2 linked regions of the Homo sapiens genome follow. The protein of the gene in region 1 purifies or fractionates together with the protein of each later gene. This does not show direct contact. Each region holds a gene or a part of one and is shown on either strand. Other genes may lie near its edges.

What was found. Proteins that work in one complex are often made in the same cells at the same time.
Region 2: the proteins of BRPF3 (region 1) and SUGP2 purify together in Homo sapiens (affinity purification with mass spectrometry, with the first as the bait; one large-scale study listed by BioGRID). This does not show direct contact.

The regions. Positions count from the first base shown.
Region 1 is NC_000006.12:36,203,181-36,206,830, forward strand, and holds part of BRPF3 (bromodomain and PHD finger-containing protein 3), read left to right. Parts: intron 1-1,477; coding exon 1,478-1,634; intron 1,635-3,650. UniProt on the Homo sapiens protein: Scaffold subunit of various histone acetyltransferase (HAT) complexes, such as the MOZ/MORF and HBO1 complexes, which have a histone H3 acetyltransferase activity.
Region 2 is NC_000019.10:19,009,476-19,013,125, forward strand, and holds part of SUGP2 (SURP and G-patch domain-containing protein 2), read right to left. Parts: intron 868-3,650; coding exon 380-867; intron 1-379. UniProt on the Homo sapiens protein: May play a role in mRNA splicing.

The DNA.
Region 1 (3,650 bases):
GCTAAGAACCAGACAAACCTACATTTGAAACCCAATTCTGTGACTTAGTACCTTTGTGACTTTTGGCAAGTTGCTTAGCTGCTCTAAGCCTTAGTTTATTTGTAAATGAACCCACCACATAGAGTTGTTGTGAGAAATAAATGAGATAATATAAGTAAAGCACTTAGCACAGTGTCTGGCAAATAGTAAGTGCTCAATAAATGGTGACTACTGCTGCTGCTGCTATTTTATTATTGCTGTTCTTTTCCCTACCTGCACAAATGCTGTTGGGATCCTCCATGGCCAAGAGGTAGAGGGAGGGTGCTGCCTACATCTGGGCAGGTGTGCTTGGCATGGACATTGGTCGGGATCTGTCCTTTGGGGAGAGGCCTAGTTCTTGATTTTATAAGCTTGGCTTTGGGGCAGGAATGTCTGACTGTGGAGAGGAGCAAGGCCTAGGTGAGCAACGTCCTGCCCAACATGCCCATCCTTCTAAGGTTTCAACTTGTTTAGCTGTGCTTATCTTTGTTTCAATGGAGTGGCATGAAGAGAAAAAGGAGAGGAAACACCACAAGAGCACTGAGGCCTTGCTTACCCTGTGGATAACCAGTCTGGGGATGTACCATGGTATAGCAGAGAGATCGTGGATTCAAATCCAACCTGGATCCACCATCTTATTAGCTGTATTAGTTACTTTGACAGTTTATTCAGCTTCTGTTCCTATGCTGCCTTTCCATCTTTTGTAAAATGGAAATAATGATACCCACCTTGCAATATGGATATTAAAGACAGATATTATAGGCTTGCATTAGTTCCTCTCCTACCCCTTTTCCTCCCCCAAGGAGTTACTGGCTTAAACCCTGACCTTAAGACTTTTGAGTAGTTTAGCCAGCTGGGTTTTCACATTTCCCATCCTCTTACATCTTTAGATCCAATTTTTTTTTTCATTTGGTTCAAAATTAAACAACATTTTTAGGCTGTTGAGGTTTATACCATGAAAAACCAGACGTCAAACAAGTCTAAGGGGTTGCATTGGGCTCAGCCTGGTTGTGGGCTACCCCCTGGTTTGATGGGACTCTCAGCCGCAGAAGGCAGGAAATAGTGGCCACATTAACCATAGCTTACCCCAGTTCCTGTTCCCTTTCGCTGCTTTTATAAGAGGAGGCTGGGGGTATTGAGGCATAGGCTTGTTTTTCAGTCCGTACGTGGAACAAGGAAGTCCAGGACCATAGGAAACGGGACTCTGGGAGATGGTTCTTTTGGAGGATTAGGACTGCAAGGCAAGAGGTGGAAAAGCAAATGAAATAACTCATGCTGAATCTGAGCTGCTTAACTTTACTGTCCTTTTCAAGCCTTTCTCTGAGGTGAGGTATTTGGCCATTTTATTCTGTCTTCCTGTATAAGGTTCAGAAATGAACCAGGTCTGGATAGGATGCACAGGCTGTAATCTGGGCTGCCCACTGACCTTGTCTTTCACTTCCGTGTGCCTCTACTCAAGGTTGAACAAGATCTGTAGTGGTCTCTCCTTTCAGAGGAAAAACCAGTTTATGCAGCGGCTTCACAATTATTGGCTGTTGAAGCGGCAGGCACGGAATGGTGTCCCTCTTATCCGGCGCTTGCACTCCCATCTGCAGTCCCAAAGAAACGCTGAGCAGGTAGGTGCAGTGGTGATTTGAGGCTGGTAGAGGGAGGTGGAGAGTGAAGGAAAAGGAATGATGGTTGGGGTGGGGCTGGCACCCCTTCTTGATCCCTCCATGGAGCCTTTGCCTACCTGTCTGGGTGGCCTATCCCAGGAACAACCCCCAGCACTACAGAGATCTTCAAGCAGCTCCTTCTGGATGGATGAGGCTTGACTTTGTAGAGAATTCTAGGGGAGAGTGGAGAGCATGCGTAGCTTTCCATATATGTGGGGAAAATCCTCTAGATGTAGCAGAAAGCCAGAAGTAGGCTGAATGAGAGCCAGGGTGGCCACATTGTGTTAATTAGGAAAAGGTGCCCTTTCCTCAAGACATTATACTGCCATCTGCCAAAAAATGTTTCATAGTAAATACACAAATTTACGATCTAAGTTGTAGCACACAGCCTGTCCAATTGTGGTGGCTGTTAGCCATTAGCAACTGGAGTTGCTGCATGTTTAATGTTTTCTGCTCCTAATTTCTCTTATTTTAACTCTTTAGTTCTTTCTCCCCCTTTACCTGTTCTATTCTTTCTGTCTTTAAGTGTTCCCACACTGCTGCTCCAGAGATGAAGCAAAGCTTTATGTGAGTCTGGTGCCTTCTGCATTCTGTCTGATCTCACTTTTGCCTTTTATAACTAAACTCCTGAAGTATAAGCCTGTATCTGGCCCGCCTTGAACCTTTTGGTCCACCTGCTCCACTGAAGCCTCCCCTAAAACATCAGCTACCTTCTCCCAGGAAGTCTTTCCTTATATTCTCACCTGATTGATCATTGGGCTGCATTTGACACCACAAATGACTTTGTCTAAGAGCTTCTCTGTGATACCACTTCCGGCTGCTTCTACCTCTCTGACTGTACCCTATGCTGATCCCACTTCTTGCTCTTTAATGGTAACATTCCCAGTGGCTCTGCTATCTGCTCGTTTGCTTGGAGAACATGTCCAATCTCATAATTGACAATAACTGTAATAGCAGCTCCAGACTTTTTGTCTTGTCCTCATCCCTTTTTTCTGCCATCAGTCCCTCAGGGATGTTTCCATGTGGATGTTGTTAATTTGTAACTCAAATATTGGAAATTAATTATCTTTTTTCCTCTCAGTAAACTTATTTCCCCATCATTATGGCTCTCCCCTCCCTCCTGGACTCATATCAAAAGTTCCCCACCTTGGAGTTACTTTTGACTCTTTACTCCCTAAGGGCCATTTTTAATCATCCTTTAAGCTGCTTTGGGGGCTTTATCAACATGGGTTTTTGTCTTCATTCTGCAGCTCTCCTGCTCATCCATGCCCTCTTAATCTCAGCAATAGCTTTCTAGGTGATCTCCAGCCTCTAATTCTTTCTTTGATCTTCAACTGGTAGTTTCTTATTCACATGCTGTTGGGATCCTCCATGGCCAAGAGGTTGTAGAGGGAGGGTGCTGCCTACATCTGGGCAGGTGTGCTTGGCATGGACATTGGTGGGGATCTGTCCTTTGGGGAAAGGCCTAGTTCTTGATTTTATAAGCTTGGCTTTGGGGCAGGAATGTCTGACTGTGGAGAGGAGCAAGGCCTAGGTGAGCAATGTCCTGCTCTTCCATTCTCTTACTTCCTCTTCCAGAATATACTCCTCTTTCTAGGCAGGCGAAGTTAAGGCTCTTTTGCCTTACATTTGAAGCTTCTTATTAGCTGTATCCTGGATCTTCCTTGGCTTTTATAGTTCTCCAGCATCTCTGTTCTGGCCAGCCTGTTTCACTTACTAAGCAAAGAATCACTAATTCTGCCTCTATATTTCTGCCCCTTTCATCCCTTTGGTTCCAGAAGAGACCTTCCTTACTACTTTGCCCATCCATGTCTGTCACCTACCTGTATGTTAAACTCTAGTAAGAGTCTTCACCAGGAAGCTTCTCTGATCTAACCTCCACCTACTCAGATCTTCTATTTTGTATCCTCTTAGCATTTTATTTCCAGTTTATATTATTAGTTTGTATTATCTTTATGCTAATATGCCCTTGTGCTT
Region 2 (3,650 bases), on another chromosome or scaffold:
GGAGGCGCAATGAGAACAAGGCAGTCCCGAAGACTATCAAGGGAGGCCAGGATATAGCAGGACATGGGATCCCAAGTTCAGGCAATGCACCGCCCACGGCCCCAGCAGCAGGACCCTGTCGGGGAGCACGAAGGCATGGGGCAGCACCTCATACCAGCTCCGCTCTCAGAAGAGGAGGAGGGAGCTGCAGGACTCGCATGCAGCTCTCTCAAGAAAGCAAGAGAGAAAGCGCCAACATGTACACTTGTCCTGGCCAGGTCCCTAGAGCTTTTATCCACTGCCTTGCCTAGATTGCAGGCCCCCCCAATTCTAAAGAGACCCTGGAGATGGGAGAGTAGGGACTGGGGCCCAGAGGAGGGGGACAGGAGTGAGCACCCACTGTCAGCAGATGGGCAGGGAGAAGAGGTCTGAGGTGCTTCAGAGATGTCCACTCCTGCTGGCTTGGGGGATGGGCCTGAGGCTTCTAAGCTGGGGTCCTGAGGAGAAGGTCCAACTGGGTCTGGCGGGCAGTCCTTGGCAGCATCATTTCTGTCTGGCAGGGATGGTTTTGCCTGTGAGAGGCCTGGAGCCTGCCGGCCGTGGTGTTTCAGCCTGGTGCCTGAGGATAGGAGGGTCTGGGTCCCGGTGGTCGCTCTCCTCGCCTTCCAGCCCCGGAGCCCTTGAGCACGGAGGAGCCCCCGCCGCTGCCACGGAAGGAGTTTCTTCTTGAGGTTGCGGACAGCCCGGGAGTACAGCATGGCCCTCACTGCACAGTCTGCTGAGGTCGGCTTCTGGTCGGCTCCTCGCAAGTTCTCGCTCATCCGCTGCATTTCTGCCAACTTCAGCTTGTAATATTTATACTCCAGACTATTTTCATCAGACAAAAACCTAGATAACAAAACAAGCATAACGGGACATTTATGAAAACACCACCAGGTCCCAAATTGTTCCTTCAAACACAAACCCTTTCTAAGTGGCCAACTCCTCACTGTCCTCTCCTGTCTCAGAGGCTCTGCCTGGCTCTACTGAGGACCCAGAGCTAGGCCCAAGACAGCTGCCCTGCTAAGAGTGACCACAGGGCAATCGGGAGTTTGAACTGAGTTCCTCCTTGATTTCCATCAGCAGCAGCCGTGAGGGAGCTCCCAGCTCTTGATGGCCTGGAAACACAAACCAGTCACCTTGGAGCCATAGCACCCTGGCAGGCAGAATTGACACCTTTTAAATGGCCCAGCCAGGATGAGTGCTCGGTGAGCTTTTGACTGCATCAAGGAAAGTGTGATGTGAACCACAAGAGAACATTAACCAAGGAGCCTGCGGCCCAGGTGTGAAATCTTATGACCCAGTCATCATGATGAGAACAGTAAAGAGAAGGTTGAGCTACATGTACTAACAGAAAAATATTCAGCTGGGCGTGGTGGCTCACACCTGTAATCCCAGCACTTTGAGAGGCTGAGGCGGGAGGATTGCTTGAGCCCAGGAGTTCAAGACCAGCCTGGGCAACAAAACAAGATCCCATTTCCACAAAATAAAAAAATTAGCCAGGGTGGTGGTGCATGCCTATAGTCCCAGCTACTCTGGAGGCTAAGGTGGGAGGATCACTTGAGCCCAGGAAGTCGAGAGGCTGTGGTGAGCTGTGATTGCACCACTGCACTCCAGTCTGGGCAACAGAGCAAGACCCTATCTTTAAAAAAAAAAAAAACCTTCTCCTTCTAGTGTCTTTACTTTTTTCATCATTTTCCTTCTAGCTTCATGAGTTGATTACAGCTCACCGCAGCCTCGACCTTCTGGGTTCAGGTGATCCTCCCACCTCAGCCTCCCCAGTAGCTGGGACTACAGGCGCGCACCACCACGCCTGGCTAATTTTTGTGTTTTTGGTTGAGAGGACATTTCACCATGTTGCCTAGGCTGATCTCAAACTCTTGGGCTCAAGGTAGCCATACGCCTCAGCCTCTCAAAGTGCTGGGATTACAGGTGTGAGCCACTGCACCTGGCCCACTATTTCTAATAAAGTCACCTGAAGTCACTCTTTCTCTTAAGTATTTTTATGACTGCATCTGGTATATAATGTTCTTCTTGCCACTTCCTTCTAAATTGCTTCTAATTTCAGCTATGATTACCCTTCACTCAAAAGTTATTCAGAAACATGTTTTATTTTGGTTGTTGCTGGTTTCTAGTTTGCTGTATTGGCATAATGTGGCCCACGTGAATTTCCTGGGTGTGCTGTGATTTTCTCTGTGATTTCATACATAACGAACTTTTAAGATGGGCGTGGTGGCTCACGCCTGTAATCCCAGCACTTTGGGAGGCGGAAGCAGGTGGGTCGCTTGAGCCCAGGAGTTCAAGACCAGTCTGGGCAACATGGCGAAACCCCATCTCTTTAAAAATAAATAAATAAATAACCACCCCACAACAAACATAACAGACTTTTGTGAATATTTGATTTCAGTTTGTGTTAAAGAAGAATATTGCTTAGTAAGTATGGCAGTATTTCAGGTGGCTTTCAGATTGTTTGATATTAAGTAGCGACATATCAGTTATTAGATGAGGTTCCAGATTACCAGTGACAAGCCAACTAGAAGTAAGGTGGCTGTGTGTTGCACAGCATTGGCAGCACTGTGTGATGTGGCATGTCCCTGGCAGGCAGCTCCATACACAAGCTCCTGCTGACACTGTTAGCCAGTTGAGGTCTGTCTGGACCTGACAAAACGACTGAGTACCGGCTCCACTGCTGCCCTGGCACTCTGTTGGGCTAACGGTGGCATCCTGCAAGATCATGCCCTAATAAGCAATAGCGCTCAATTAAGAGAATGCTGACCAACATGGGCACTCTGGTTCTCAAGTCAAACACAGCCCCAGCAAGGCAACTCCTCATCAAGGGCAGAGCGCAGAATCAGGGCCAGGTGACCTGACTGCCCCAGTCACTCATGGCTCTGATGGCTTTCCTTGTTCCTGGATGGTTCTGATGCCAAGTGCAGTCCGAGGATGTCAGTCCCAAATGCATCTCCCAAGTTCCAGTGGAACATAACATCAAGAACAGAGAACACTCAACAAGCCAGTCTGCTGGCTTCAAATCTCAGCATAGCCACTTATTAGCTGGGAACCTTTCTGTGCCTCAGTTTCTCCATCTGTAAGACAGGGAAGATGATAAGCAGTAGCTACTTCATCATACAGCTGTGAGGCCTGCGTTATAAGCTTTTCACTAGGAGGCAAGTGCTATGAAAACTGCCTAGTAGTCATTAACCGCTCAACAAATATTAGCAGATTGTCTCTGTTTATGCTCATTTCCTGTGTTATAAAATCTTCCACAACCTTATTTGGATTACGTCGTCTACGCATTTCAGAGAAACATTAATGTCTCCTACCATGGTTTTGGATTCATCCAATTCCTCTTATCATGGTTTTGGACTTAAATGATTTTTTTTTTTTTGAGACGGAGTCTCGCTCTGTCACCCAGGCTGGAGTGCAGTGGCGCAATCTCGGATCACTGCAACCTCTGCCTCCTGGATTCAAGTGATTCTCCAGCCTCATCCTCCCGAGTAGCTGGGATTATAGGCACCCGCCACCACACCCAGCTAATTTTCGAATTTTTTTTAGCAGAGATGGGGTTTCACCATGTTGGCCAGGCTGGTCTTGAACTCCTGATCTCAGGTGATCTGCTCACCTTGGCCTCC